Homo sapiens: one gene and its partner. The protein of the gene in region 2 purifies or fractionates together with the protein of the main gene of each other region. This does not show direct contact. Each region holds a gene or a part of one and is shown on either strand. Other genes may lie near its edges. The genes, in order: RABL2A and CCDC34.

What was found.
Region 1: the proteins of CCDC34 (region 2) and RABL2A purify together in Homo sapiens (affinity purification with mass spectrometry; 3 studies listed by BioGRID and IntAct, with this or other methods). This does not show direct contact.

The regions. Positions count from the first base shown.
Region 1 is NC_000002.12:113,637,136-113,652,445, reverse strand, and holds the end of RABL2A (rab-like protein 2A), read right to left. Parts: intron 15,148-15,310; exon of another isoform or gene 11,610-15,147; coding exon of another isoform or gene 11,553-11,609; coding exon 11,441-11,552; coding exon of another isoform or gene 11,412-11,440; exon of another isoform or gene 11,094-11,411; coding exon 10,996-11,093; coding exon of another isoform or gene 10,966-10,995; intron 10,666-10,965; coding exon 10,582-10,665; intron 10,416-10,581; coding exon 10,317-10,415; 3' UTR 9,257-10,316; coding exon of another isoform or gene 9,251-9,256; 3' UTR 9,054-9,250; downstream 1-9,053. UniProt on the Homo sapiens protein: Plays an essential role in male fertility, sperm intra-flagellar transport, and tail assembly.
Region 2 is NC_000011.10:27,341,716-27,357,398, forward strand, and holds part of CCDC34 (coiled-coil domain-containing protein 34), read right to left. Parts: intron 8,725-15,683; coding exon 8,617-8,724; coding exon of another isoform or gene 8,533-8,616; exon of another isoform or gene 7,154-8,532; intron 1-7,153. UniProt on the Homo sapiens protein: Involved in spermatogenesis. Has a probable role in anterograde intraflagellar transport which is essential for the formation of sperm flagella.

The DNA of each region.
Region 1 (15,310 bases), on a different chromosome or scaffold from region 2:
TTATTTAGGGTACTGTGTCCTCTGAGTCATGAGCTCAGGGTATCTATTCATTTATTTAGGGTACTGCGTCCTCTGAGTCATGAGCTCAGGGTATCTATTCGTTTATTTAGGGTACTGCGTCCTCTGAATCATGAGCTCAGTGTATCTATTCGTTTATTTAGGGTACTGTGTCCTCTGAGTCATGAGCTCAGGGTATCCATTCATTTATTTAGGGTACTGTGTCCTCTGAGTCATGAGCTCAGGGTATCTATTCATTTATTTAGGGTACTGTGTCCTCTGAGTCATGAGCTCAGTGTATCCATTTATTTAGGTTACTGTGTCCTCTGAGTCATGAGCTCAGTGTGTCTATTCATTTATTTAGGGTACTACGTCCTCTGAGTCATGAGCTCAGGGTATCTATTCATTTATTTAGGGTACTGCGTCCTCTGAGTCATGAGCTCAGTGTATCTATTCATTTATTTAGGGTACTGCGTCCTCTGAGTCATGAGCTCAGGGTATCTATTCATTTATTTAGGGTACTGCGTCCTCTGAGTCATGAGCTCAGGGTATCTATTCATTTATTTAGGGTACTGCGTCCTCTGAGTCATGAGCTCAGGGTATGTATTCATTTATTTAGGGTACTGCGTCCTCTGAGTCATGAGCTCAGGGTATCTATTCATTTATTTAGGGTACTGCGTCCTCTGAGTCATGAGCTCAGGGTATGTATTCATTTATTTAGGGTACTGCGTCCTCTGAGTCATGAGCTCAGGGTATCTATTCATTTATTTAGGGTACTGCGTCCTCTGAGTCATGAGCTCAGGCTATCTATTCGTTTATTTAGGGTACTGCGTCCTCTGAGTCATGAGCTCAGGGTATCTATTCATTTATTTAGGGTACTGTGTCCTCTGAGTCATGAGCTCAGGGTATCTATTCATTTATTTAGGGTACTGTGTCCTCTGAGTCATGAGCTCAGTGTATCCATTTATTTAGGGTACTGTGTCCTCTGAGTCATGAGCTCAGTGTGTCTATTCATTTATTTAGGGTACTGCGTCCTCTGAGTCATGAGCTCAGTGTATCTATTCATTTATTTAGGGTACTGCGTCCTCTGAGTCATGAGCTCAGGGTATCTATTCATTTATTTAGGGTACTGCGTCCTCTGAGTCATGAGCTCAGGGTATCTATTCATTTATTTAGGGTACTGCGTCCTCTGAGTCATGAGCTCAGTGTATCTATTCATTTATTTAGGGTACTGCGTCCTCTGAGTCATGAGCTCAGGGTATCTATTCATTTATTTAGGGTACTGCGTCCTCTGAGTCATGAGCTCAGGGTATCTATTCATTTATTTAGGGTACTGCGTCCTCTGAGTCATGAGCTCAGGGTATCTATTCATTTATTTAGGGTACTGTGTCCTCTGAGTCATGAGCTCAGGGTATCTATTCATTTATTTAGAGTACTGCGTCCTCTGAGTCATGAGCTCAGGGTATCTATTCATTTATTTAGGGTACTGTGTCCTCTGAGTCATGAGCTCAGGGTATCCATTCATTTATTTAGGGTACTGTGTCCTCTGTGCCATGAGCTCAGTGTATCTATTCATTTATTTAGGGTACTGCGTCCTCTGAGTCATGAGCTCAGTGTATCCATTTATTTAGGGTACTGCGTCCTCTGAGTCATGAGCTCAGTGTATCTATTCATTTATTTAGGGTACTGTGTCCTCTGAGTCATGAGCTCAGGGTATCTATTCATTTATTTAGGGTACTGTGTCCTCTGAGTCATGAGCTCAGGGTATCTATTCATTTATTTAGGGTACTGTGTCCTCTGAGTCATGAGCTCAGGGTATCTATTCATTTATTTAGGGCTGCTTCAATTTCTCTCAGCAATGTTTTGTAATTTTGAGTGTGCAGGTTTTTCACATATTTTGTCAGAATTATTTCTCAATATTTCGTATTCTGATATTCAATTGTTGACTGCCAGTATACAGAAATACAATTGATTTTTGTGTGGTTCCCATGTATCTTGAAACCATGCCAAGTTCATTTATTAATTCTGGTGCTCTGTAGCTGCCACTGGATTTCAACATAGACAATCAAGTCTTCTGTGAATAAAGACAGTGTTATTTCTTTCTTTATTTTTGAGATGGAGTCTCGCTCTGTCTTCCAGGCTGGCGTGCAGTGGCACAATCTTGGCTCACTGCAACTTCTGCCTCCCAGGTTCAAGTGATTCTCCTACCTCAGTCTCACGAGTAGTTGGGACTACAGGCATGTGCCAGAACGCCTGGCTAATTTTTGTATTTTTAGTAGAGATTGGGTTTCACCATGTTGGCCAGGCTGGTCTTGAACTCCTGACCTCGGGTGAACCACCCAACTCGGCCTCCCAAAGTGCTGGGGTTACAGGTGTGAGCCTCCACGCCCAACCTTATTTATGTTTTTCTATCTGAAAGCCCTTGTTTTTCTTGCCTTATTTCACAGTACAATGCTGAATGGAAGTGGTGAGAGTGGACATTCTTGTTCCTGAGCTTAAGCATGAAAAGCTTCAGTCTGTTGCCATTAAGTGTGATGTTAACTGTGGGTTTTTCACAAATACCATTTATTAGGCTGAGGATATTTTATTCTCTAAGAAAAATATAGAGGTTTATATTTTTGCTAAGAGGTTTATATTTTTATTTTTTACACAGTAATGAGTGTTGAATTTTGCCAGCTTTTCCTACATTTATTGAGATGATCATGTAATTTTTCTGTTTTTACTTAGTTAATCTGGTGTATTAAATAAACTATTTTAGAACAACTTTAGATTTATAGTAGTCACAGATTGTTACAGATTTAATCCTCTAGTTTGAGACTATTTCTCAGTCTTTCTTTGCTCTTATATGACCTTGACAAATTTGAGGGATAGTTAGGTATTTTGTAGAATATCCCTCCATTTGAATTTGTGTAATATTTTTCTCATGATTATATTGGGATTATGAATTTTGGGAAAAAGTCTCATAGAGACAAATTATCCTCATCACATCCTATCAGGAGTCTACAACATACATATGACAACAGTGATGACATTAACCTTGATCCGTTGGTCAGGGCAGTGTTTTCTGGGTTTCATCACTGTTCGCTTTCTATAAGTGCTTCTTTAGAAGTGAGCCACTCAGTCCAGCCCATTCTCTGTAGTGATGGTGGTTGGGGGTGTTGGCTCCACCCCCTGCAGATGGCAGGAGTTACACATAGTATTTTTAATTTTTCTGTATGAAAGATTTGTCTCTTATTATTCATCTATTCATTATATTAGTGTAGATCCCTAATGTATATTTATTTTATACAGTGGACTATAAACCAATATGACATTATATAATTTGTTGCTCACATTTTTCCAGCTTTGCCCATTGGGAGCCCTTTCATATTGGCTCTTGAGTCCCTTTGACATGCCTTCATCATTTTTTAAATTAAAAAATTATTACTAATTTATTTTTATTTTATGGAGATAGGTTCTTTCTATGTTACAGCCCAGGCTGGTGTGGTCTTGAACTCCCGGCCTCAAGCAATCCTCCTACCTCTGCCTTCCAAAGTGCTGGGATTACAGGTGTGAGCCATTGCACCCGTGGCTTCATTCCCGGCTTCATTTAATTTGTTGAGCACATCCTTCCTTTCTGATATAATAGGTGCTACAGGCTCATTTTGCATTTCCCCTGCTTCAACCCTGGAATCCACCATTTCTCTAAAGTAATCTGGTTTTTTCACTGGAAAGTGTTTTTTTAGAAACTAAGATCTGGACACTGGGTGTGCTTGTCAATACTGAGATGTATTACTTCTAAGCCCTCAAAGCTGGATGAGACAGTTAGGTAATATATGTTGTATACTAACCCATGTACACACATGTATCTATTATTGTTTTTGTATCTATCCATTTTATATATATATAAAGCTAAATGAGAGTTCACGATAATACTTTCACCTCTTATCCAGTACCGCAAGATTTAGTTTATCCTTTTCTTGCTTCCAATACTTTTTTTTTTTTTGAGACAGAATCTTGCACTGTGGCTCAGGCTAGAGTGCAGTGGCGTGTGATCTCAGCTCACTGCAACCTCCCCCTCGTGGGTTCAAGCGATTCTCCTGCTTCAGCCTCCCGAGTAGCTGGGACTATAGGCGCCCACGACCACGCCTGGCTAATTTTTTGTATTTTTAGTAGAGACGGGGTTTCACCATGTTGGCCAGGCTGGTCTCGAACTCCTGACCTCGGGATCCGCCCACCTTGACTTCCCAAAGTGCTGGGATTACAGGCGTGAGCCACCGTGCCCAGGCCCATTAATTTTTTTTTTTTTTTGAGACGGAGTCTCACTCTGTCGCCCGAGCTGGAGTGCAGTGGTGCGATCTCAGCTCACTGCAAGCTCCGCCTCCCGGGTTCATGCCATTCTCCTGTCTCAGCCTCCCGAGTAGCTGGGACTACAGGTGGCCGCCACCATGCCCGGCTAATTTTTTTTGTATTTTTTAGTAGAGATAGGGTTTCACTGTGTTAGCCAGGATGGTCTCGATCTCCTGACCTCGTGATCCGCCCGCCTCGGCCTCCCAAAGTGCTGGGATTACAGGCGTGAGCCACCGCGCCCGGCCCCATTAAATAATTTTTAAATGTTTAACTGACATTGCACTCCTGGGATAAACTCCACTTTAGTCATGTGTATTATCCTTTTAATATGCTGCTGGACTTCTCTTATTTATTTATGTATTTATTTTATTTAGAGGCAGGGTCTCATTCTGTCATCCCAGCTGGAGTGTAGTGGTGCAATCATAGGTCACTGCAGCCTTGAACTCTTGGGCTTAAGCGATCCTTTCATCTCAGCCTCCCTAGTAACTGGGACTACAGTCATGTGCCGCCACACCCAGCTAATTTTAATGTTTTTAGTAAAGACGGGGTTTTGCCATGTCGGCCATGCTGGTCTTGAATTCCTGGCCTCAAGTGATCTGCCCTCCTTGGCCTCCCGAAGTGCTGAGATTACAGGCGTGAGCCACTGCACCCACCCACAATTAATTTTAAAGTATTCTCGTTACTTGAAAATCTGTACCCTTAGCTTCCTGGCCCCCACCAAATTCCTTCCCAACTTCACCGGCAACCCCCCCACCCTAAACAACCACTATCTGTTATTTTTGTCTGTAATCTTTCTGTTCAGTAATCTTTCTGTCTCTGTAGATTTGCCTGTTCTGGACATTTCATATTAATGAAATCGCACAACCTGCGGTGCTTTATACGTGGCGTCTTTCATTCAACATACTTTTTTTTCAGTTTCATCCATGTTGTAGCACATATTAGCACTTCATTTCTTTGTATTTTTGAGTAATATTTCATCGTGTGGATATACCACATTTTATGGATATTTGGATTATTTCCAGCTTTTTGGTTATTATGGATAGTGCTGCTATAACCACTCATATACAAGCTTTTCTGTGAGCACATGTTCTCATTTCTCTTGAGTGTATACCTAGGAGTAGATTTGCAGGATCATATGGTTAACTCGATATTTCACCATTCCAGGACTGCCAAACTGTTTTCCAAAGTGCCTGCACTATTTTACTTCCTCCTCAGCAGTGTATAAGGGTTCCGATTTCTCCACAGCCTCATTAACACTTGCTATTATCTTTTTCATTACCAGTAAGTGGCATCTCATTCTGGTTTTGATTTGCATTTCTCTCATGACTAATGATGTTGAGCATCTTTTCATGTACTTATCGGCCATTTGTATATTTTCTTTGGAGAAATGTGCATTTGCTTCATGTATTTTTAAAAACCATTTTATCGATATACATATTTAAGGTATACCACTTGATGAGTTTGAAATAAGTATATACCCATAAAAACGTCACCACAATGAATGCCATAAACATATTCATCACTTCAAAAAGTTTGCTCCCTCTCTCTTCATTTCTAATTCTCATGTTTTGTGATAAGGACACTTAACATAAGATCTATTTCCAGTAAATCTTTAAGTATGTAATACAGTGTTGTTAACTATAGTCACTATGCTGTACAGGAGGTCTCTAGGACTCATCCCTCCGGCATAGCTGAAGCTTTGCACCCAATGAGCAATGCCTGCTTGTTTCCTCCTCCCCCTAGCCCTTGGCAACCACCATTCTACTCTCTGCTTCTCAGTTTGAATATTTTAGATTCCTTATGTAAGTGAGATCATGTAGTATCTGTCCTACTGTGTCCGGCTTCTTTAACTTAGTATATTTGCTGCAAATGGAAGGATTTCCTTTTTATTTTATTTTATTTTATTTTATTTTGAGACTGAGTCTCGCTCTGTTGCCCAGGCTGGAGTGCAGTGGCGTGATCTAGGCTCACTGCAAGCTCTGCCTTCTGGGTTCACGCCATTCTCCTGCCTCAGCCTCCCAAGTAGCTGGGACTACAGGTGCCCGCCACCATGCCTGGCTAGTTTTTTTTTTTTTTTTTTTTTGTATTTTTAGTAGAGATGGGGTTTCACCGTAGCCAGGATGGTCTCGATCTCCTGACCTTGTGATCCGCTGGCCTCGGCCTCCCAAAGTGCTGGGATTACAGGCGTGAGCCACTGCGCCAGGCCAGGATTTCCTTTTTTAAAAAGGCTGAATGATGTTCCATTGTACGTATATGCCACATTTTCTTTATGTATTCATCCGTGGTTGAAAAAAAAAATTTTTTTAAGCATCTCTTTCAATCTTTGCAGATTGGCTTTGTGCTGGGGCATTCCTTCAACACCTAACCAGGATATTAACAACTCTGTCTTAGCCTTCACTTCTTGATAACCCTGGACCTAGAGATCTTCCAAAGGAAAAAGCTTAGGGTCTTCTCAGATCTTTCCTGAATGCGTGACCTGCCCTGGGTATGTGCATGACATTTGAAATCCCCAATAAACACAAGTATTTTTTGAATGTCCTGATTTCCCAAAGAAACTCTCCCAGATTTTCCTCCCAGGCTTTATGTAATATATTGTATGTCTGAACCACAACTTTTTGTCCCAGGGAGCTGTGGGTTTTTTGGTCATCTCAGAATGTTTTTAAGCAATGCCTGCCACTTTTCTACCTTGAGTGGATTCAGACTTGGGCAAAACAGACAAATGCCTCATTTTAGTCTCTCAGATCGTTTCTGACCGGTTAGAATAGACAAACAAAGTCATTTGTGAATAAGGTCTGCCTTGCTCCCTCTGGAACCTGGGACCTGGGTCCTAAATTGGGAAAATGGACTACTATCTTCAAGATCACCATCAAGCTGATGAAGGGGTGGGGCAAGGGCAAGTGAAAATGCCACACCACTTTTCTGTCACTTTGAAGTTGCCCTTTCCTCATTTCAGGGCTTTCCTGATTGATATAAGTCTTTTACTGTTTTCCAGAGTTCTGGTAAAGTTTCTGCTGCTTTTTCTCCATGTTTCTGTAGAGGGACAGGAGTTTGGAGCTGTCTACTCTGCCATTTTCCTGATGTCACTCCACTTCTGAGTCTTTCCTATCTTTGTGGATAGCAGAGATGTCGATCTCGGATATGATACCCTGTAAGGATGGGGTCCTTCATGATGTGATATACAACTTAATATTCATTATATGGTTTTATGTCCCCAACATGTCTAGTAACCAAGGAGTGGACATAGGAGCGCCCCGCTCGCTAGCACTCTCAGTGACACACTTGGGGAATCTGTGTTTGTGTCTACAGCTTTAGGCTCTGTGAGCTGAAGTCTTGGACTCTGTGAGTGGCAGTGTGGGGAGTGGGGGAGGCATTTCCACCAAGTGATACAGTAAGAGTTTCACTAAACACAAAGCTATGGCTGCTTCCTAGACAGTCCATGCGCTTGTAACTGGCAAGCAGAGTTAGCATTCTGGAAAGAGGTGATTGCCTGTAATCGTCATTAGGAAGAAAGGATGTTGCCAGATAATAATAGGAAGGAGCACTGTATTTGGTACTCAGATGATTCATGCTGTCTCTTGGTACTTGCATGTTTAGATATAACTATGTAAGTGTTAACAACCACCGCCTCATAAAGGCATAGTAAGCAGGGGCTCATACCCCATTAGGCAAGAGGAGCAGGATCAACCCCCCAGGCAAACAACCTAGACCAGCAAAAGTGCTAGCCAGAGAATGAGAGGTGACAAGTATCAGTCTCTGCATGGGGTCCAACTACAATAGCAGGGGCTATGGTTTGTCCTTTCCCATTGACCCTTCTCTTGTACATTCCCCCAGGACTGGTGACCAGTTAGAAACATGGAGCAGCTCTACCTGGATGGAATGAACTTTAAGAAGCAGGTGGATCTGAGCAATGTACACATGGGTGGCTTGTGGATGTTGCTGGCACCCTGCCTAAACATTCATCCTCCAATTGCTTTGAGTTGGAAGCGCACAGTTACCCTTTTCCCCAGAGAACTGACCTTACTGAAACAGAAGGCCCCCTTCCACCTCACACCCTTGGCTGAAGGGCACAAAAGGCCCCTGGTCTTGAGGTAGGACTAACTCTGGAGGGCAATTTGCCCTCCAGAGCTTCCCTGGGACGGGGTGGGGTGGTGAAGCCGGCCTCCAGCTGAGACCACAACCTTGCTGAGCTTCTTGTCTCCTGCCCCCCTCACTCTTCTGAGAATGACCCTAATTAAGTCATTTGAACCACGGCCTTCTCAGGGTCAGCTTCTAAGGAACCTGATACAGAATAGTCCCATAAAACCAACACGATGGTGAACTTTATAGTCTGCAAATTCTATCTCAGTAAGGCTGTTGTATTTTTTTTAAAGTACTTAGTAGTTATTTACAGTAACTACATTTTTTTAAGTTCTACCTCATCAGGGTATACGTTCCTGGGAACCCCTGGTCAGGTCAAACATCTTACGTTGAACATCTAAGTATTGCTGATTTCAAGGGGAAATGTACTTGTTCTTGAGCTCCCAAATTAATAGGTAATTGAATTCTTTTGAAAACACTAAATTCCACTGAAATGGCCTCCAATATAGTGAATTGAGAGTAAACATGGGCTACCCTGCAACAGGTCAAGGCAGCTACCCTTCATTGATAAGGGTGATGATTTGCAGATTCTTTTGTCTTTTTGCTCAGTACACACTTCAGAGCCACAAAGCACATACATTTACTCAATGTTTATGTCATTCAGCCTTTACTGTAAAAAAGGAAACAATAAAAACAAAACCCTATTAATAAACACAATGCAAACAATGCCCGAGATTATCATAAAAACATACTAGCAAGCCACAAGTACCAGAGAGGGGTGAACAGGCATATCTGCTAGCTCTCCTCTTGCAGTCCTCAGCCTCCCACAGGAGGCACAAGGTCCAAACTATTCCTAAAAAAAAAGGACAGCCTCTTTATGCTGAAATAGGAACTTTAAAGGAAGCTCTTCTTGTAGTCCAAATGGACGTACCTTGTGGTATGGCTGTAAGGACTCGATTTTACCGCTTGTGTATTCCTAACTATAGCTAGGCCTGTCACCTGCTGTTCCTGTGATCTCAGCTTTACCTAGAAGAGCTCCTGAAACAGAGTGGGTACACGGAAATCTGGAATGAATAGCTATCTGCTCAAAAACGATTGTTTAAAAACAGATGATTGGGGCCGGGCGCGGTGGCTCATGCCTGTAATCCCAGCACTTTGGGAGGCCGAGGCGGGCGGATCACGAGGTGAGGAGATCGAGACCATCCTGGGCAACATGGTGAAACCCCGTCTCTACTAAAAATACAAAAATTAGCTGGGCGTGGTGATGCCAGCCACTCGGGAGGCTGAGGCAGGAGAATCGTTTGAACCAGGGAGTCAGAGGTTGCAGCGAGCCGAGACTGCGCCACTGCACTCCAGCCTGGCGACAGAGCGAGACTCCGTCTCAGGACGAACAAAGAAACAAACAAACCAGATGACTGGGAGATTGAAGAGGAAAAAAGATGGGAGAAAACGTAGGGAAAGGATGGGGCCTCACAGACTCAGCTGTGGGTGGGGGGGTAATCATTACCTCAGGAGAAGCCCAAGGAATTGTCCCCGAGGTGAGCTTTGGAAAGAAAACAAAAACAAAAACACCAAAAAACACCTAAATTTCCTGTATTAAAGTGACACATAATCATGTTTTCTGATTCTCTTCACTGTCTGCCTGGGGGGAGGGGGTGGGGAAGGTGTTAATGATGCTGATCCCTAATTCTGCTTCAAGGAGATCTGGTGGGGAATTCTTCCACCAGTCCAGAGTTTGCTGGTGCTGACCTCATCCCTGTATCACGGGCCTTGAATGTGGGAGGCTAATAGGATGGGTGGGTTGCAGGAGGTAGAAGAGGGGATGGCCTAGAGAGTTTCTCCATTCAGAGCTGGAGAGTTGTTGAAGGGAAGGGTATTTTAAAAGGGCTCCACCCACCCCTAGCCCCAGCCCCTCAGCTGTGGGGAGAGGCCACCTCCTCTGATGGGGTCTCGATGCTGCTGCTCTGTTCCTGGTCTGGCACGTCCTCCTCTTCCTGCTCCAAGCTGAAGTTCTGTGAACAAGGTCGCAGGTGAGGCCTGGCCCTGCATTTGCTCAACCGCAGCTCTGATACATTTAGTGGGGCAAACTTAGGCAAGAGTCACTCTACTGGGTTGTAGTCCCTATCCCTGAAGAGGAGCCGTTTCTTCCATCCCACCCGAAATGTGGACCTGACCTACCTCGAGCTCCTGAAAAATCTCATCCATGAAGTCCTGGGAGTTCTGTTTGTAAGACACAGCTAATCGAATTGCATCATTGAAGAGCTGGGGGTGAGGTAGAGATGGTGGATGAGAGTGCCTTGGACTCTGCCCAGTCCACCCCACTGGCCCCACTGTGAGACTACACAATACTCCATTCCTAAAATCAGCAACCTTACCCCTCCATTTGCCTCTCCCCGTCACCCTGACCTATGTATGGTCAATGGACTTCTGCCTCATCAAGTCCAGGCCCATCAGCTCCTCCCCTCCCTGCCACCCAGGCCCATGCACTGTCCCAGTTCTCTCCATCACACCTGCAGTAAGCCCTTCTCTTCACAGCTTCCCTTTACCACCTAGCGCCCTGACCTTGCTAGCTACCTCTGCAGTCAACCACACCTTCACAACATTGGTACCATCAGCAGCCGAGACGAAATACAGGGGCAGGGAGAACTTCTTGGCAAAATTGAAGCTTTTTTGGGTCACGTTTATGTCTGCTGTAGAGAGAAGGTAGGACATTGGTCTGTCAAGGGAAGGGAAGAAGGTTTGGAGGGGGGGCCACTGGAGGCCTTCATTCCAGAAAGTGGGATAGGCAGGGATGATTGGGAAACATGTCCTAGAAAGAGCTCAGTTAATAGGGATCTGTGTCTTGGAAAGAGGGCAGGTCGGCTTAGCTGGCTTCTTTATAAGGTGGGAAGAATGCAAGCAACCAACCAAGGGTTGTATCTTATCGTGGGAGGGAGGACCAATCACTGAAGGTTGCCTGCCCGGGGAATGGAGGAGGAAATGTATGAGGGCAGGTCCCCAGTGAATTGCTAACACCCAGGTGCAGGGATGGCCCCACCATCAATTTTATTGGCCACCACGATGCATGGGATCTCTGGCCTGAACTCCCGAAGCTCTGTATACCAGGTGCTCAGGTTCCTATAGGTGACTTTCCTCTGTATATCAAACACCTGCAAAGGGCAGAGGAAGAAAGATAGCTCAGGTATGTCAATGTTTCTGCACCCCATCTCCAGGTGACTCACACACCCAAGCAGGTAAGCATGAGCACATGGTGCTGTTTGTGGGAACGCTCTGAATTGCAGCCTCTCTGACCGCAGAGGCTGCCGTTTCTCAGGGAAGCCCCCTGGAGCCTCCAGATGCGAAAATGTTTTTAAAAATCTTATTCTTGGCCCAGTGCAGTGGCTCACACCTGTAATCCCAGCACTTTGGGAGGTTGAGGCGGGTCAATCACCTGAGGTCAGGAGTTTGAGACCAGCCTGGCCAACATGGTGAAATTCCGTCTCTACTAAAAATGCAAAAAATTAGCTGGGCGTGGTGGCGCATGCCGGTAATCTCAGCTACTTGGGAGGCTGAGGCAGGAGAATTGCTTGAACTAGGGAGACAGAGGTTGCAGTGAGCCCAGATCATGCCATTGCACTCCAGCCTGGGCAACAAGAGCAAAACTCTGTCTGAAATAAACAAATAAATAACGTATTCCTTTTTTGTTATCTTGTCATCTAATCTTATTCACCTATTTTAACAATCATAAATGGAATCAATTTGCCAATTGATGCAGTCTGTTAGAAATTGTAAAAACTTTTGTGTTTTTTAGTCCTCTTGTATTTATTGCTTAAACTGTTTTAAAGTTCCTCTGTAGTAACTGTAAATGTTTCTAGAGTTTTACTTTAGTTACTATTTACTTTTATTTATTTACTTTTTAGAGACAGGGTTTCACTGTCACCCAGGCTAGAATGCAGTGGCTCAATCACAGCTCACTGTAACCTCAAAACTCCTGGGCTCAAGGAATCCTCCTACCTCAGCCTCCCAAGTAGCACGCACGCATTAATTTTTATTTTTTTATTATTTTTTTTTTTGTAGAGGCAGGCTCTCCCTATGTTACCCAGGCTCATCTCAAACTCTTGGCCTGAAGGGATCCTCCCACCTGGGCCTCTAAAGGTGCTGGGGTTACAGGTGTTAGCCATCACAACTGCCCGATTTTTTTTTTTTTTTAGACGGAGTCTCACTCTGTTACCCAGGCTGGAGTGTGGTGGCATAATCTCAGCTCACTGCAACCTTTGCCTTCTGTGTTCAAGTGATTCTCTTGTCTCAGCCTCCTCAGTAGCTGGGACTACAGGTGTGCGCCACCATGCCTGGCTAATTTTTTTATTTTTAGTAGAGACAGGGTTTTGCCGTGTTGGCCAGGCTGGTCTCGAACTCTTGATCTCAAGGGATCTCCATATATGGAGTCTTGCTCTGTTGCCCAGGCTGGAGTGCAGTGGCGCTATCTTGGCTCACTGCCACTGCAACCTCCACTTCCTAGGTTCAAGCGATTCTCTTGTCTCAGCCTCCGGAGTAGCTGGGATTACAGGTGCGCACCACCATGCCTGGCTAATTTTTGTAGTTTTAGTAGAGACAGGGTTTCATCATGTTGGCCAGGCTGGTCTCAAACTCTTGACCTGCAGTAATCTGCCTGCCTAGGCCTCCCAAAGTACTGGGATTACAGGCATGAGCTACTGCACCTGGCTGATTTACTTTTAAGCTTTTGTTTACTTCTTTGTTCTTTCTGCTTTTTGTTTTTTGAGATAGGGTCTTACTCTGTCAGCCAGGCTGGAGTGCAGTGGCAGAATCTTGGCTTACTGCTCCTCCACCCCCTGGGCTCCAGTGATCCTCCTACCTCAGCCTCCTGAGTAGCTGGAACTACAGGCACATGCCACCATGCCTGGCTAATTTTGTTTATTTTTTGTAGAGATGATAAGCTCTCATTATATTAACGAGGCTGGTCTTGGACTCCCGGGCTCAAGTGATCCTCCTGCCTCGGCCTCCCAAATTTCTGGGATTACAGGCATAAGCCACTGTGCCCGGCCTCTTTAAATTTTTTTAAAGTAATTTTTATGTTTTATTATTTGCAGTTCATAATTGTATTACTTTATAATTTGTTTTTACCTATTTTATTTTTATTTATTTATTTATTTTGAGATGGAGTCTTGCTCTGTTGCCCAGGCTAGAGTGCAGTGGCGGTATCTTGGCTCACTGCCACTGCAACCTCCACCTCCTGGGTTCAAACGATTCTCCTGTCTTCAAACGATTCTCCTGTCTCAGCCTCCTGAGTAGCTGGATTACAGGTGCGCGCCACCACGCCTGGCTAATTTTTGTATTTCTAGTAGAGACGGGGTTTCAACATGTTGGTCAGGCTGGTCTCGAACTCCTGACCTCAGGTGATCTGCCCACCTAGGCCTCCCAAAGTACTGGGATTAAAGGCATGAGTCACCGCGCCCAGCCTGTTTCTACCTATTTTAAAATATCAGCAAGAAGGATGAGCACTGCAAACCAGCTCTAAGGGCAGAACTCTGAAAGACAACTGAGCTGCTGCTACAGTGAGCCTTCATGCCCTTCACAGGAGCTCCTCCAAAGTGTCTAGCCCAAACTGCCCTAGTACAACAGTCAGTGGATTAAAGTTACAGACAACCACCACCCTGTAACTGCTGGCACAGCTGACCTCACTTCTAAATCACCCAGCTATTTGTGCAAGCAACATGGTTCAAGCTCAGGGCTAGGGGCTCGCCCTGTGTGGTGGCGGGAGGGTCAGCAACTGTCACATCTCAAGAGGTGGCAGGAAGTCTATGTAGATTCTCTTTCACAGGCAAATTTCAATGAATCACCAGGTTGTCTTGAATTCCCGATGAAGTCTCCTTATAAAGGATGTCTGTAACTAAACTTCTGGAATCTGCCTCACACCAGGCTCAGATGACTTTTGTCCAGATCTGGTTTCCTGAGCATCTGTTCCTTGTTTTGAGAGCTGAGGAGGAACTGGCTAGAATGAGGAGCATCCCCATCTCAAGGTTTCAAGGTGGAGGGTCGAGCCCTGGTTCCGTCTCTGACCCTCAGCTCCCCGTGTGGTCAGAAGGCAAGTGCTTTCTACTTGCCAGGGCCCGTGCAGCAGACTGGGGCTGGTGGCAGGCACCTGCAGACACAGGCATGGTGGCAGGAGAGACACCCCAGGCCTTCAGAAGAGGGTCTGAGGGGAGCCCACGGAGATGCAGCAGATGCAGGAAGCAGTCACTCCAAGAGAAAAAGAGAGGTGAGCTCAAAATACCAAATGCCACTGTAGGCCTGAAACCAAACTGGCTAGGACCAAGCTCCTCTGCTCTTGAGGGTCAGACTTCTGCACTACACTGCCCCCATTTTCCTTGCCCCATTATCCTCTTGTTTAGTACCTTAACAGTTATCAGAGTTAAAGCTTTTGGAATTTTTCAAGGGATTTTGTTCTTAACGGGCAGTCGGGGGAATTAGGTGACGAGTTCCTTCCTTTACCATCTGCAAAGGGTCAGAAGGGAAGAATCCTCACTGTCCTCACCACTGGTATCTGTACTGTGCCTACCAGTCAGTCAGTTCCTGGGGGCAGCACGTGTGTCTTTCCACCTGGGCATTCCCAGCATCCTGCACACGTGCATCACAGACAGTCCATGTTGTGGAAGGGATCAGTGGTGCAGGAGCACACACGGAAGAGCTAAGCTAATGACAAACATCAGAGGAGGCTGCACGGAGGTGGTGGCATTGAAGCAGGGCCTGAAAAATGAGCAGAGTTTCAAATAAAGGGGTGTGAGCTGGGGAGAGGCTGAGGGAAGAGCATGAAGGAAGGTGTGCAGAGGAGCAGGTGACAATGAGCAGAACAGAGCAGCTCCTTCTGCATCCCCTCTGCTATTGCTTCTTACAGATGAGATGACACCTA
Region 2 (15,683 bases):
CAATTAACAGTACAATGTCAGTCTACCTGCTGGGCTATAAGTTTCATGAGGTCAGTGACAAAGATCTTGCTCACCAATGTCCACTCAGAGCCTGGGGCAGTACTGAGTGAAAAGCAGGTGTTTGATATGGTTTGGCTGTGTCTCCACCCAAATATCATCTTTGAGGGACCTGGTGGGAGGTAACTGGATCATAGGGGCAATTCTTTCCCATGCTGTTCTCATGATGGTGAATAAGTCTTGCAAGATCTGATGGTTTTTTAAAAAAGGAGTTCCCCTGCACAAGCTCTCTCTCTTTGCCTGCTGCCATCCATGTAAGACGTGACTTGCTCCTCCTTGCCTTCTGCCATGATTATTAGGCTTCCCCAGCCACATGGAAGTGTAAGTCCAATTAAACTTCTTTCTTTTGTAAATTTCCCAGTCTCAGGTATGTCTTTATTAGCAGCATGAAAACAGACTAATACAGTGTTCAATCAAAATTTGTTGAATAAATGATAGTGAGTAAAAATTACAATCTGTTAGATTGTCTGAATCTTAGTATTTTTTAATGGATGCTTACTCTCATTCTAAAACAGGGGCTATATATATATATATATATATATATACACACACACACACATTTATATATAAATATATGTATATATATGTATATGTAAATATATATGTATATATATTTTTATATATACACACACACATATTTCCAGGACAGTTTGTCAATATTAATATTTGCATAAATCTTTGCCATCAGTGAATTAAGAGAGGAGAAGTGAATAATGCTCATTAAACACTGTATGTAAGGGCACATCCAGGCAAATCTCTGGCTATATAATTCTTCCATAGAACAAAGGGTGGCAAACTAAGCACTGACAATCACATCTGATCTACCATCACCTGTATTTGTAAATGAAGTTTTATAGGAATGTGGCCACACTCATTTGTTTACATATTTATTGTTTATAGTTGCTTTTGCACTACGACAGCAAAGCTGAATGGCTGCAACGGAGACTGCATGACCCCAAAAGTTTAAAATATTCATTAACTGGCCCTTTATAGAAAAAAAAATATTGATCCTTGACACAGACTATAACTCAATATTTTTTCCTCCTTATTTAAATGATAATCTACCAACACAGCTAAATTCTAAATAACCAATGACATAGCCAGTCTTCTTTATCAAAGGTTTGGAAACAAATCTGGAAGGCATAAAAAGTATATGCAATACAAATGCCATACATATCACCCAGGCAAATAATTATGAGCCAAGAAAAGAAATTCTTCCCTTGAAAGCAGCTTATAGAATACATTAATATAAGCAATTCAATGAAGACTCAACCAACAAACATCAGTTATAGACAAGATATGTCCAGGGCTGTGCAGGAAAGACAGGTCTTAAAAATCAAAGCTCAGGATGGGCATGGTCGTTCATGCCTGTAATCCCAGCACTTTGCGGGGCCAAGGCAGGTGGATCACCTGAGGTCAGGAGTTCGAGACCAGGCTGGCCAACGTGGTGAAACCCCGTCTCTACTAAAAATACAAAAAATTAGTTGGGCGTGGTGGCATACGCCTGTAATCCCAACTACTTGGGAGGCTGAGGCAGGAGAATTGCTTGAACCCAGGAGGCGGAGGTTGCAGTTAGCCGAGATCGTGCCATTGAACTCCAGCCTGGGAGACAGAGCAAGACTCCGTCTCAAAAAAAAAAAAAAAAATCAAAGCTCAAGTAATTCCCCAAGTTGTATCAAAGTTGCTGTATTTCCTTCTTGCTGGGCAGCCAATAGCTGTGAAACAGAATCTTTTCATGCTGAGAACTCAATAGCCATTGGAACAATACTGGATTTTAACTACTTCAAACTGTCAGAAGATCTACAAATTGAAAAGGACCTTGGAGTACATCTTGCTTAATCTCCATGTGACTCATGACTGTCCTCCACAACTTTACCTATAAGAAATCAACCAGTTCTTACATTGTTTTTAATTATAGCAGCTGACATTTATTGAGTGCTAACTATGCCTGTTACCATTCTACATACTTTATTTGTACACACTCTCAATTCTTATAATCATGATGTGAGGTAGATACCATTATTATCCCATTTTACAAAGGAGGAAACTAAGGCACATGGAGGCTAATTTGCCTAAGGTCATAGAGACGGTGAGTGACAGATCACACAGACATCATACAGAAATCAAAATGGGAGAATGTTAAAACCAATTTTATGCCAATAAATTCAATATTTTAAATGAAATGTCAAAATTCCTTAAAATATGCCACTTCCCAAAATGAATTCGAGAAAAAGTAGTGTCTGAATAATCCTCTACTTATAAAAACAATTCAAAATTAAAAACTTTCCTACAAAAACTCCAGTCACTGAAAGCTTCACTAGTTGATTCCATTACAGTTAAAGATACTCCATATTTTAATAACATAAAATATTATTGTGGCATATCTTAATAGTATCAAACCTTAAAAAAATGATTTTAGAACACAGAGAAAAAGTAAACATATCAAAGCTCATTTTAAGAGTCCAGCATTATTCTGACATCAAAACCAGGCATGGAAATTACAAGGTGATATCAGAAACGTTCCATATGAGTGTGGCTGGGAAAAAAACATATATATGTTATAAACATATGTATATGTTATAAACACATGCATGCTGCATGTTATAAACACATGCATGCTGCATGTTACAAACATGTATGCTATATATTATAAACATGTGTGTTACATATATGCTATAACATGTTACTTGTGTTATACGCATTGTTACATGTTATAAACATGTGTACATTACATATATGCTATAAACCTGTGTTGTACATACGTGTAAATATATAAAATATATATTATATATCAGGAACAAGGCAAGATAACTGCCCTCATCAGCAAAAACATGAAATACTGAGAAATATATTTAACAAAATACTGCTATACATTGAAAACTAAAAAACACTGCTAAGAGAAATTAAAGAAGACATAAATAACTGGAAAGAAAAACCATGTTTATAGATTTAAAATTTGATATTATTAAGATAGGAATTTTCTCCAAAATGATCTATGTGTTTATATTTAGCAGAATCCCAATAGTGCCAAGCACTATTAGGACAGGCATTATTAGGGAAATTGATAAGATGATTCTAAACTGTATATGGAAAGATGCAGGGCAACTAAAACAAGTTTGAAAAAGAATTGAAGACCTGGAGGATTTACACTATCTGATTTCAAGAATAATAAAATTCAGAACTATAAAACTATACTAACAAGTTAGTGTGGTACTGCACAGGATATAAATCAATAGAATAGACTAGAATCCAGAAACAGACCTATAAATATGTGGTCAATTGATTTTAAACAAAGGTGCCAAAGGTAGTTTAATAGGGAAAAGATTATCTTGTCAATATTGTTAGGACAATTGGATATCCACATGCAAACAAATGAATCTTGACCGTTAATGCATACTATACATTAAAATTAAACTCAAATAGACATACAGGTAAAGCTAAAGCTATAAAGCTTCTGGAAGAAAACAGTGGAGAGTATTTTTACCCTCTTGTGGTGGGCAAACATTTTTTTTTAATTTTATTATTATTATATTTTAAGTTTTAGGGTACATGTGCACAACGTGCAGGTTTGTTACATATGTATACATGTGCCATGTTGGTGTGCTGCACCCATTAACTCTTCATTTAGCATTAGGTATATATCCTAATGCTATCCCTCACCACTCCACCCACCCCACAACAGGCCCCGGTGTGTGATGTTCCCCTTCCTGTGTCCATGTGTTCTCATTGTTCAGTTCCCACCTATGAGTGAGAACATGCGATGTTTGGTTTTTTGTCCTTGCGACAGTTTGCTGAGAATGATGGTTTCCAGCTTCATCCATGTCCCTACAAAGGACATGAACTCATCATTTTTTATGGCTGCATAGTATTCCATGGTGTATATGTGCCACATTTTCTTAATCCAGTCTATCATTGTTGGACATTTGGGTTGGTTCCAAGTCTTTGCTATTGTGAATAGTGCCGCAATAAACATACACATGCATGTGTCTTTATAGCAGCATGATTTATAATCCTTTGGGTATATACCCAGTAATGGGATGGCTGGGTCAAATGGTATTTCTGGTTCTAGATCCCTGAGGAATTGCCACACTGACTTCCACAATGGTTGAACTAGTTTACAGTCCCACCAACAGTGTAAAAGTGTTCCTATTTCTCCACATCCTCTCCAGCACCTGTTGTTTCCTGACTTTTTAATGATTGCCATTCTAACTGGTGTGAGATGGTATCTCATTGTGGTTTTGATTTGCATTTCTCTGATGGCCATTTCTTAAATAGAATACAAAAACTACCAACAATTAAAAAAACTGAAATATGGAAATTCATCAAAATTTAAAACTTCTCTTTAAAAAATACCATTAATCAGTGCTTCTTCTTGTTAGTGAAAAAAAAAATACCATTAAGAAAAATTAAATGGGGATTTCATGACCAGCCTGGCCAACATGGTGAAACCCCATCTCTACTAAAAATACAAAAATTAGCCAGGTGTGGTGGTATACTCCTATAATCCCAGCTCCTCAGGAGGCTGAGGCACGAGAATTGCTTGAGCCCGGGAGGCAGAGGTGCGGTGAGCCAAGATCATGCCACTGCACTCCAGCCTGGTCAACAGAGTGAGACTCTGACTCAAAAAAAAAGAGACAGAAGAGAGGGAAACAGGAGGGGAGGGAGGGGAGGGGAGGAAGGAAGGGAGGGAAGACAGAGGAAAGAAGGAAGGAAGGAAGGAAGGAAGGAAGGAAGGAAGGAAAAAAGGAAAAGTTAAATGGGAAGAAATATTTGCAATACATATATCTGAGAAGAGACTTATAGTCTGAATATACAAATTCTCATATCTTAATAATAAGCCATACAACCCCTTCAAAAATGGGCAAATGACTTAACACAACACAAAACAAGCCAACAACACAAAACAAGCCAACAACAAAAGAGATGTAGAAATGGTCAATATATGTTATGGACTGAATTGTATTCCTGCCCCTCTCCCAAATTCCTATGTTGAATCCCTAATCCTCAATGTGACTGTATTTGGAGATTGCATCTTTAAAGAGGTAATCAAGTTTAAATGAGGTCATAAGGGTAGGACCCTAATTCAATAGGACTGGTGTCCTTACAAGAAGAGGAAGAGACACCAGGGATATATGTGAACAGAGAAAAGCCCTGTGGGGACATAAAAAGACAGCCGTGGAGAGAGGCCACAGGAGAAACCAAACCTACAGATGCCTTTATCTTGATTTCCAGTCTCCAGAACTGTGAGTAAAGATATATTTCTGTTGTTTAAACCACCCAATTTGTGGTATTTTGTTATGGAAGCTCTAGAAGACTAATATAATAAGCTTATGAAAATACGCTAAACATCATCAGATCTCAGGGAAATGAAAATTAAAACAATGGCATACCACTCCACACTCACTAGAAGGACTTAAAATGAAAAAGATTGGCCATACCAAATCTGCCAAAGATGTGGAGCAACTGGAACTTTCTTATTATAATAGTAGTGGAGATGTAAAATGGTACATGTACTTTAGACAAATGTTTGGCAATTTCTTATAAAGTTAAACACATACTTACCATATAGCCCAGTAATTTAGTTCCTAGGCATTCACACAAGAGAAATGAAAACAAGTGTCCACAAAAAGACTTGTACATGAGTGGTCACAGAATTTTATTCATAATATCCCAAACTGAAAACAACTCAATTGTCCATCAACTAGTGAACAGATAAACAATTTCTATGAAATTGAATGAAACAGATAAACATATTCTATGAAATGTATTTCATAGAATACTATAGTCAGCAATAAAAAGGAATAATACATGAAATATCAGGATAAGTTTTAAAACAAAAGACCAACACAAAAGACTATATATTCTATCATTCCATTTATATGAAATTATAGAAAAGGCAACTCTAATCTACAAGTACAGAAAGCAGATTAATGGTTTCCTTGGAGCTGAGGCTGGCTGGGGGCAGGGAGTGGGGGTGAATGCAAAGGGGCAAAAGGAAACTCTCTGGGGTGATGGAAATGTTCTGTATCTTTAATGGTGATGGTTACATGGGTACCTAAATTTGCCAAAGTCATCAAACTTAAAATAGTTGTATTTTATTGTATGCAAACTACAGCTCAATAGAATTAATTCTGAAAAAAAATCAGACAGACTTCTGTAGGATTTAAACTAAAGAAGTGTGAACAGAATGCCTTTAGTTAGCAAAAGGAAGACACAACAGGCACTCAGAGCAGTCACTACTACCGAGAGAGGAACCAGCCACTAAGTGGCTTCAGATTTTCTGGCACGCTAGTTCTACACCACACAGAGCACAACAATAAATCTTCCTTTTTTAAAGACGCTGCACCGAGAGAACCTTTGTTTCATACAACTAAAGGAAACTAACATAACAATTGGCTACTTAAAGTTTCTGGATTTCTGTTTTGCTTTCTCCAATAGTGCCTCGCACACAGTAAAAGCTGAGTAAATATTTGTTGAAAGCATGAATAATGCAATGATAACAGTGTTATCCATCATATACCTTGTTGATCTGAATTAATGTCTTACATTAGAAAATCAGTTGTGTTTTGAGAACGAAAAACGATTTTATTTTTAAATAATTTTTAAAAACATTAAAAGTAAAGGACCTTTTACAAAATATGTGATAACACTGTAATAAACACATCCAGAAAATAAATTACCACGGCAACACAAATGTTAGGAGTACCAGATGAGATAGAACATTTATTTTAAAAGCACTTAAGAATTTACAGTCATATTATAAGAAACTAGCTTTGCTAATGAATGCATAAATTCTTTGTGTCTGATTTTTTGATAAAACACAGTGAATATGACTTAGAGAAAATAGCAGCCACAGATACAGCTAAAATGTGAATGAAGCTGGAGGCAGCTGAGGACCACACACCATGAAATGTAAACAGAGGAGAAAAAAGCTAGATGCCAGACAGGAAGAGAAGAACCAGGAGAGCAGTCTTTACAAATAGAGGTAAATGTAACTATGTCTGAAAGAAGAAATCTGATAGGTCTTAAAGAAAAAAAAAAAAAAAAAAGAATAATCAATTATTCCTTAACATGAACAAGAGTTCTGCAGAACAGGTAAATATAACGTCTCAGTTTTATTTTTAAATAATTCTCAACATTACGGAATTTTGCCTTCAATAACTAGTGATTTATGTCAGGGCAAGCCACTTCCCTCCAAAAGAAATAATTTTTTTTTTCTTCAAATAATTGGATTAGGTCTACTGCCACTAATTAAAACAGTGAATATATTGTCTCCCAGAAGTATCTTACATTCCTAGACAAACAACAACTAGGTTTGATTGGCATGGTAAAATTAGCTTAATGGAGTTAGAAGATAAGAAGGACTTTTAGAGGAAAGAGCAAACTATTCTGCATGTGTAAAATAATTTTGTTTTATAGTTACAAATTTCAAAAAGATATTACCCAAAGTTTTATAACAGTCACAGAGATTTATTTTGATTTTTGAATTTATTCACAAAGATCTCTTTCATGTTATATCATGGGATGAAGTAAACTTTTTTAAAAAAACAAAGTAATTGACTTCTAAACAAATATGGTTATAACACACATACATCTAACCAATTTCCTTCTTATAATACTTGGATGAAGAAGGTTATATCATCTTCAATTTACTGAAATTATTTACTTAGTACTCTTATTAATACCATTAGGCATTAGATTCAACAATAAAGATAAAAAGTTAGAATTAAAATTTAAAATATTGTCCTACAATTTAAACATTTTTCCACATTTGTAAAACTGGATTATAATAATAAAAGCAGTACCACTCTAAATATGTAAAAATCACAACAGAAGACAAATTGACCACAGAATAAGTATTTTTAAAATTTCGAATGTGTGTGATCCATAGAAGAATATATTAAAATTAAAAGGAAAAAATGCAGCCATTCAATGAACATCTTCACTCAATTAAACTATTTTTGGACATATATCATGCGCAGGTATTCATCTAGCTCCTGGAAAACTGAACAAAAGAGGCAAAAATCCCTGCCCTTATGTAGCTTACAATCCAGTATAAGAAGTAAACAACAAGTTGAAAGATATAATGGAAAGAGATCACAAACAGGGGAGTAGTAATTGTAAAGAAAAGGAGGAGATGATTAGGAACAACAGAAGAATTCTAATTAAGCCTTGATGACCGAGAAGACAGCTGAATGAAACAGAGAAATGGGAGGATGGATTTACGAAGGAGAAATGGGCAAAATGGGTTGTTTTAGATTTGCAGACTTGGAGGCACTTGCCATAAGGATCCAAAAGGTCAGGCCTAGAAATACAGACTTGGTGACTGCCTGCAGGCAAATATTAGTGCAAGCCACAGGAGGGAAAAAGGAGAAAAGTAGAGGGCAAAGGGCAGAAGATAGAGACTTGATAAATGTCCACCAGGATAGAAAAACAAAACAAGCCAAAGAAGAAAGACTCTAAGAGAAGTATTTTTTAAAACCTAGGTAATGAAGTATAATAGGAAGAAATATTTTGCAAAAGAGATGTCAATGTGTGTATCCATTTTCCCCTCCTTACTTGCTCATTCTTTTTCTGAACCCATTCCTTGTGCTTTTCTTCAGCAATTATCTTTCTTTTTTCACGTTCTTCCATTTCTTTTCTTTTTTCTAGTTGTTGATTTAATTCCTGTGGATTTTATTTAGACAAAAGGCAACATTTAATAGAAGTACCCAAATAACATACATTTTAAAAGTCTGAGGTTATTAACCAAATTAAACAAGAATATAGTTTCCTTTATGGAGCATATGCCACTAGTGGCAATAACTTACTTAAGTAACCAGTCTATGATGAAAAAAAGCATTGGTAAAAGTATAAGTCATTTTTTAGAAATGTGCAAATAATTGCTTGGCAGCAAAACACTAGTTTCCTAGACTAAACTTCAGCTAAATTACCCTCATTGAAATCAACTTTCCCACACATAAATTTTGGCATCACTCTAAGCTACTGGCAGAAGCTCAAGAGAATTGCAACTTTTTTTTTTAAACAGTTATAAGAAGCTTCTGGATTCCTGATGAAGATAAAGCATAGAAATTAAATAATCCCTATATTAAAAATTTAATTCAGTTACACAAAAGAAATACAAAGAAACCATTCAATTTTCCTTAGGGAAAAAAGAACCCAGAGTTTTCTTCACTGGTTTTATAGCTGCTGAAGTGTAAAACAAAATCACATTCATATCCCAGATTATTTAACTGCCTTGCTGTCACTCGAATCTACACGTTTGGGCATTTCCTCAGGAAAAAGAATGTGAAAGGTATGGCCAAATAAAACTACAAGTTGAATGCCACCACTCTGTCACTCATCAGTTAAATTACTGCATTGGTTTAGAATGCTGTTCAAACTAGACTTCACTAGGACTCCACAACCATAATTACTGGTTATTTTTCTTCTCCGTCTTTAGATACTAATAGTCAGATACCTTACGTATCTTCTGTTGGTCTCCACACTCCTCCATAGCCCTTTCTTTCCCAAAGACCTACCTACTTGGGCATGGGTGGTAGTGGGAAAGACAATTTTCCAACCCTCAGACTAATTCCAGTGTCTTAAATGAAGATAAAACTTGACACCAAGAACATCTCTTTTGCATTTTAAACAACTGGTCACAGGAAATCTGTCTTCCATAATCACTCATCCTAAAATTCTGCTGCATAGAAGATAGCCGCCCTCACTCAGGAAGTCTTCCAACTTTTAAACACTATACCCCCAAAAGCAAATATCCATCTTTAAGGATTTTTCATCACTTCAGCAGCTATTGTTCTTTGATGACTTACTCAGTATACTTTTATGGTACACCTACTATGGACCTAGCAATAACTGATATAAATCTGATATAAAGATGAAATCCCAGAAGTCTCTGATCTGATTTTCTATACACTAAAGAAATAAGTGCTACATTGCGAGTTATTGCATATCATAAAAGTTCAGAGAAGGGAAGGGAAGATGAGGAGAAACATCTTTCCTTCCCCCTAGCCTAGTCTACCAGGCTAGTCAGAAATGAGCACCATACAAGGAACAGTGAAAAGATGGCTTCGAAAGGAGAGAGATTGGGAGGTGGGAGGGGGTAGAAAATTTGAGCGTGGTACTAGGTAGATGGAGAAGGTCTTTTGAGACAGGCAAAGTAAAGTGAACTATATGAAACAAGAATACCCGGCAAAAGGGAAAATTCAGAGCTCTTAATGACAAAGGCTGAAGACTGCATTTGAAGGGATGAGAACTATTCTGAGGAAGACTGACGAAGAGTGTGCCATAGTATATGAGTTATAAGAAAAAGAAGGCCTGGGCCTCTGGGCCAGGCGCAGTGGCTCATGCCTGTAATCCCAGCACTTTGGGAAGCTGAAGCGGATGGATCACTTGAGGTCAAGGGTTCGAGACCAGCCTGGGCAAAATCGTAAAACCCTGTCTTTACTAAAAATACAAAAATTAGCCAGGTGTGGTGGCAGGCGCCTGTAATTCCAGCTACTGGGGAGGCTGAGGCCGGAGACTCGCCTGAACCTGGGAGGCAGAGGTTTCAGTGAGCTGAAATCATACCACTGTACTCCAGCCTGGGTGACAAAGTGAGACTCCATCTCAAAAAAAAAAAGGAAAAGGAAAAGGAAAAGAGGGTTTGGACTTAGGAAACAAAAGGGGGAAAAATTATACATATATATACATGTACACATACAAATACATGTGTATATATGTATGTTTATATGTGCATGTGTGTATATATACAAATATATAAATATGAAAGACATTAATTAATTGGCTAGATATAGACCTGACAACTACATATCAAAAATTTTCCAAAATAGTCCCAAATTTTATTTTCAAGAAAAGTAATTATTTAAATGTATAACTAAAGACATGATTGACTATATATTTATGTACCTTTTAAGATTCTTCATTTACCTAAACTAAAAAATCAGAAAAAAAGAAACCCTGTACTCCTATTTGATGGCTAACAAATTTTAGTTAATGTTGATTGAAGGGTTAAAGAAAAAGGGTCAAAATGTATCTAGAAAATGCTACCAATAACCCAAACAGTGTTCTAATCTTGGATGTCTGTTCAAGTAATTTGTCAAACCAGAATATACATCACATTTTGAGACACAACCCTCCCTTCCAAGTCTGGCCCTTCTTAGAATTTCCCACCCTGAATGACTCCATGTTTACCACAAAGGCCAGTCTCCTTCAGGACACAGCTGGAGTCTTCCTTCGAAAGGCCCCTACATGGTCTTCTGGTATACCACTGAATTTCAACAGGATTACAGATAGCTATTAATATTTTCCCGTGGAATACAACACTTGATTATGGAAAACCAAAATCCAAAGAAGATCTTAAACATGCATTTTTATTTTAATAGGTTTTGCCTACTTTCAAATAATTTTTTACCACTGAAGGTAATAATAATCAGAAAAACTGACAGTTTTGAGTTTCACCAACAGCTCTATATCCTGCCCTATTCGTTCGTTAAGGGCTCATTAAGGGCTAATGAATAAAATGGCCAAAGGCAAGATGGTTAAAAAAAAAAAGAAAAAAGAAGGCACCAGGACTACTCACAAACTAGGTAATTTTTATAATTTACAACTGATTATAATATTAAAGCAAATATTAAGAATTAGAATCAGCCAATGACCATAGAGAACCTGGAGCAGTTGGCTAAATAATTATTTATAATAATTAAAAAGTAAATAAAAATTAAATGACCTATAAAACCAATATACTAGTTTTTCATAATGCTTGATAATTGATTCAATATTTACCATATTTATCATCTCAACAAAAGTTACAAATGTATACCATTTTGTAAGTGGGTAATTTTTATGAATTAAAATAATTTTTTAACTTAGTCCCACAGAGATGTCTGAAACAAACCAAATGTCTGATGCTCAAATCAAATTTATGAGTGTGGATGATCTTTTTAATGATTAAATTATCCTACAAATGTTCTCTTAAATCTTAAAGGAAGAAAATACGAAAGCCAGAGTTCATTAAAAAATAAATACTAAGTCTGACTCACTTATTTCTAAAATACATCTTGATATTGTGGGAAAAGCATTTAAATGGAAGTCAAAGAATTAGGTGCCAGTCCCAGTTCTGCCATGGACGAAGCCTTGGCAAAATTACTTTTCTGCCTTTCATGCTTTTTAGTTTTAATAGGGATCTGAGATGACTATTCTTTATGGTTAAAAATTTGATATGGTTTATAAACAAATTAGGGATACAGTAAATACAGAAAAATAAGGAAAACATGAGATAAAAACAAAATAAAGGAAAAGGCAGTGAAAGAATGTGAATACCACAAGAGCTCAACATGAGCTTACAACAAGCTGAGTAGTTGGCCTATATGTTAGGATATCCCTGGCATAACTGATATGTAAGAGTCATGCTAAAACTGAATCACTTCAGAGTTGAGTAATAAAGTAGCCATAAGAAATGTCAAACTACTAAATATATAAAAAGGTTTTAATCTTTGAACCAAATTACAAATAATTATACCCTGCTACATGCTTATCATTGTGATAGGGTTTATATTTATTATTTTAATCTGTTCTCAAAACAAATCTTCATAGCAGTTATTATGATCTCCTTTCACATATAATAACTTTGAGTGCTTTGTACATATTAGTCCATATCCTGATGTTCATTTAGTCCTCATAACAACACTATGAAGCAAATATTATCCTCCCCCTTTCACTGATAAGGAAATTGAGACACAGAAAGGTTAAGGATTTGCCCAAAGTCCAAATTTTGAATGCAGGAAGTATGGCTCAAGAATTTATGGTTTTAAACCAGGCACCGTGGCTCACACCTGTAACCCCAGCACTTTGGGAGGTGTCACTTGAGCCCAGGAGTTGGAGGCCAGCCTGGGCAACATGGCAACCCCCCCACCCCCACCCCAACAAACAACAATAAAAACAAAAATTAGCCAGGCGTGGTAGCGTGTGCCTACAGTCCCAGCTACTCAGGAAGCTGAAGTGGAAGAGGAGGGGAGGTCAAAGCTGCAGTGAGCTGTGATCACGCCACTACACTCCAGCAAGGGTGACAGAGTGAGACCCTGTCTCAAAAAACGAAAACAAAACCCAGAATTTACACTTTTAACTACTCCACTATTGTCTCTCTAACATCTGGCTTATAGATGAAGAAACTGAGGCTCAGAGAAGTTAATTAACTTTTCTAATGTCACAGAATTAGAATGGCAAGGCTAAAATTTCAGCCTTGTTCTGTGTGACTACCAAGCCCGGGCTTTACTAACTTTCTGAAATTCAATTAACTTCTCTCTGTACACTGACTAAAAATGACTGGAAGTGACCCTCCTTTTCTTAATATAACAAGTAACTTCTTGTGAGACTGTAGATAAAGCCCAATACCAGAAATTGAATTTTGTTCTACCATTAACTCACAGGATCAGTATTTTCCGAATTGTAAGTTTAAAACCAATTTAATGAATTATGACCAGCCTTTTGAAAAAAGAATAGAATACCAGGTTTTGCACAAAATTAAGATGCTATTTCACATACATATGTATAAATACATATATATAGAGAGATATATGTAGGTATGTGTTTTTATAACATAAAAAAATAGAGTGCTCACTATGAACAAATATTCTTAAAAGCTACTAACTAAATAATGGACTTAGTCATTGAGGTAAGAGAAGTAAGTCTGGGAATTCAAAAATACACCCCAATTCTGAAAATAAATGAAAAAGCTTTAAGAAGACTATGAATAGTAATGATATAAATAACAATACAAATAAAAACAAAGCCAGGCATCTTTATACTTTGTTACATTTAATCCTCACAAAACCCCTGTGACACAGGTATTATTTTATTCCTCTTAAGCAGACGAGAAAATAGAAACATAAAAGTTTCAATAACTTGCTTACACCCAGCAAATAAAAAGAACCAGGGTTTTTATTATTCTTGCCTAACATCAACCGTAAGGTCTTTCTCAAGCCCTGTGTACTGTCAAGAGGAAATAAGTGCCACTCTCACAGCGCACTTTTCCAGGAATAAATTTGTAATCTAGAATACAAAGTATCATACAATAGGAAAACAGCAGAATGTATTAGTTTTCATAATCATTTGAATTATGCCAAGCCTCTGGGACATGTGACTGCTTGCCTGGTTAGAAACTTATCAAATAATAACTGGTTTCAAAACTAACAGAAAAGTTATTCTAAGGAAGATCATGAAGCTTTTGTTCCCAGGATTTTTTTTTTTTTTTTTTTTTTTTTTTTAGACAGAGTTTTGCTCTTGTTGGCCAGGCTGGAGTACAATGGTGTGATCTCAGCTCACCACAACCTCCGCCTCCTGGGTTCAAGTGGTTCTCCTGCCTCAGCCTCCTGAGTAGCTGGGATTACAGGCATGCACCACCACGCCCAGATAATTTTGTATTTTTAGTACAGATGGTCTCTCCATGTTGGTCAGGCTGGTCTCAAACTCCCAACCTCAGGTGATCCACCTGCCTCGGCCTCCCAAAGTGCTGGCATTACAGGTGTGAGCCGCCATGCCCGGCCAATTCCCAGGATTTTTTTTTAGCAACAGTTACTAATAGACTGAAACATCCAACAAGAGTGAAACAGATAACTATATTTTAACAAATATGTAATACATTTTAAATATATTTAAATAATATTAGACAGCCATTTTTAAATGTTATAAAAATGTTTAATGATAGAGAAAAAGAGTTTTATCCTGTTTCATTAAAAAGAAGAAGTGTCCCTCATCATTCAAATCTATCTGGCTTCAGTGTTTGGATAGGAAGAATTCAGATAGTCTAGATAGTGGGTTTAGGGGATGCCAAATTATCCAAATCTATTTGGTTGCCATGTTCTGAAACAGTAAGAGTTCAAAAAATATGTGAATATTCTCATTAAAGAAGAGATGTGAAAATGCATCTACAACTATTTATTTTTTGAGTTCATATAGTAAAAGTTCAAAAGAGACTCACGCATGGAAATGTCCATAAGTGAGGGAGGCACAGAGAAACTGAAACACCCTGAAAGACTAGCAAGCAGTTTCCCACCGCCCAGCACATAGGGCACATGCTCACTGAGTGACACACGGTGGGGTGGGGTGGGGTTGGGGGTGGTGGGGTGGGGTGGGGTTGGGGGTGGTGGGGTGGGGTGGGGTTGGGGGTGGTGGGGGGGGGCAGGTAGATTCTTGCCTCTATTTTGTTTCAGTAAAGTTAAAAATTTTGCCGAGTGTATACAGTTGAATTTACTTTAGTTAAATGTACATATGTTGATGCTCCAGTGTATGTAGACATACAACTTATACATACATTTGTACGTATTTCAAAATAATTTACATAGAAGAAAATCTGGAAAGCTATGTCATAATACTAACAATGATTATCTTCAGACAGTGAAATTAGAAGAGATTTTAATTTTCTTAATTATGCTTAGCTGTATTTTCCAAATGCTCTAACAATGAACATATTTCTATTATTATAACTTATTAGTTATTAAATTTGATATAGTAAACTAACATAAATGCAAAGACTTTGTTTTCAGGAATAATAACATTAACATTTTAATTTACAACTGCAGCTCTACTTTGTGAGCTCACAGATTAAATAAAAAGAACACTGTCTAGTT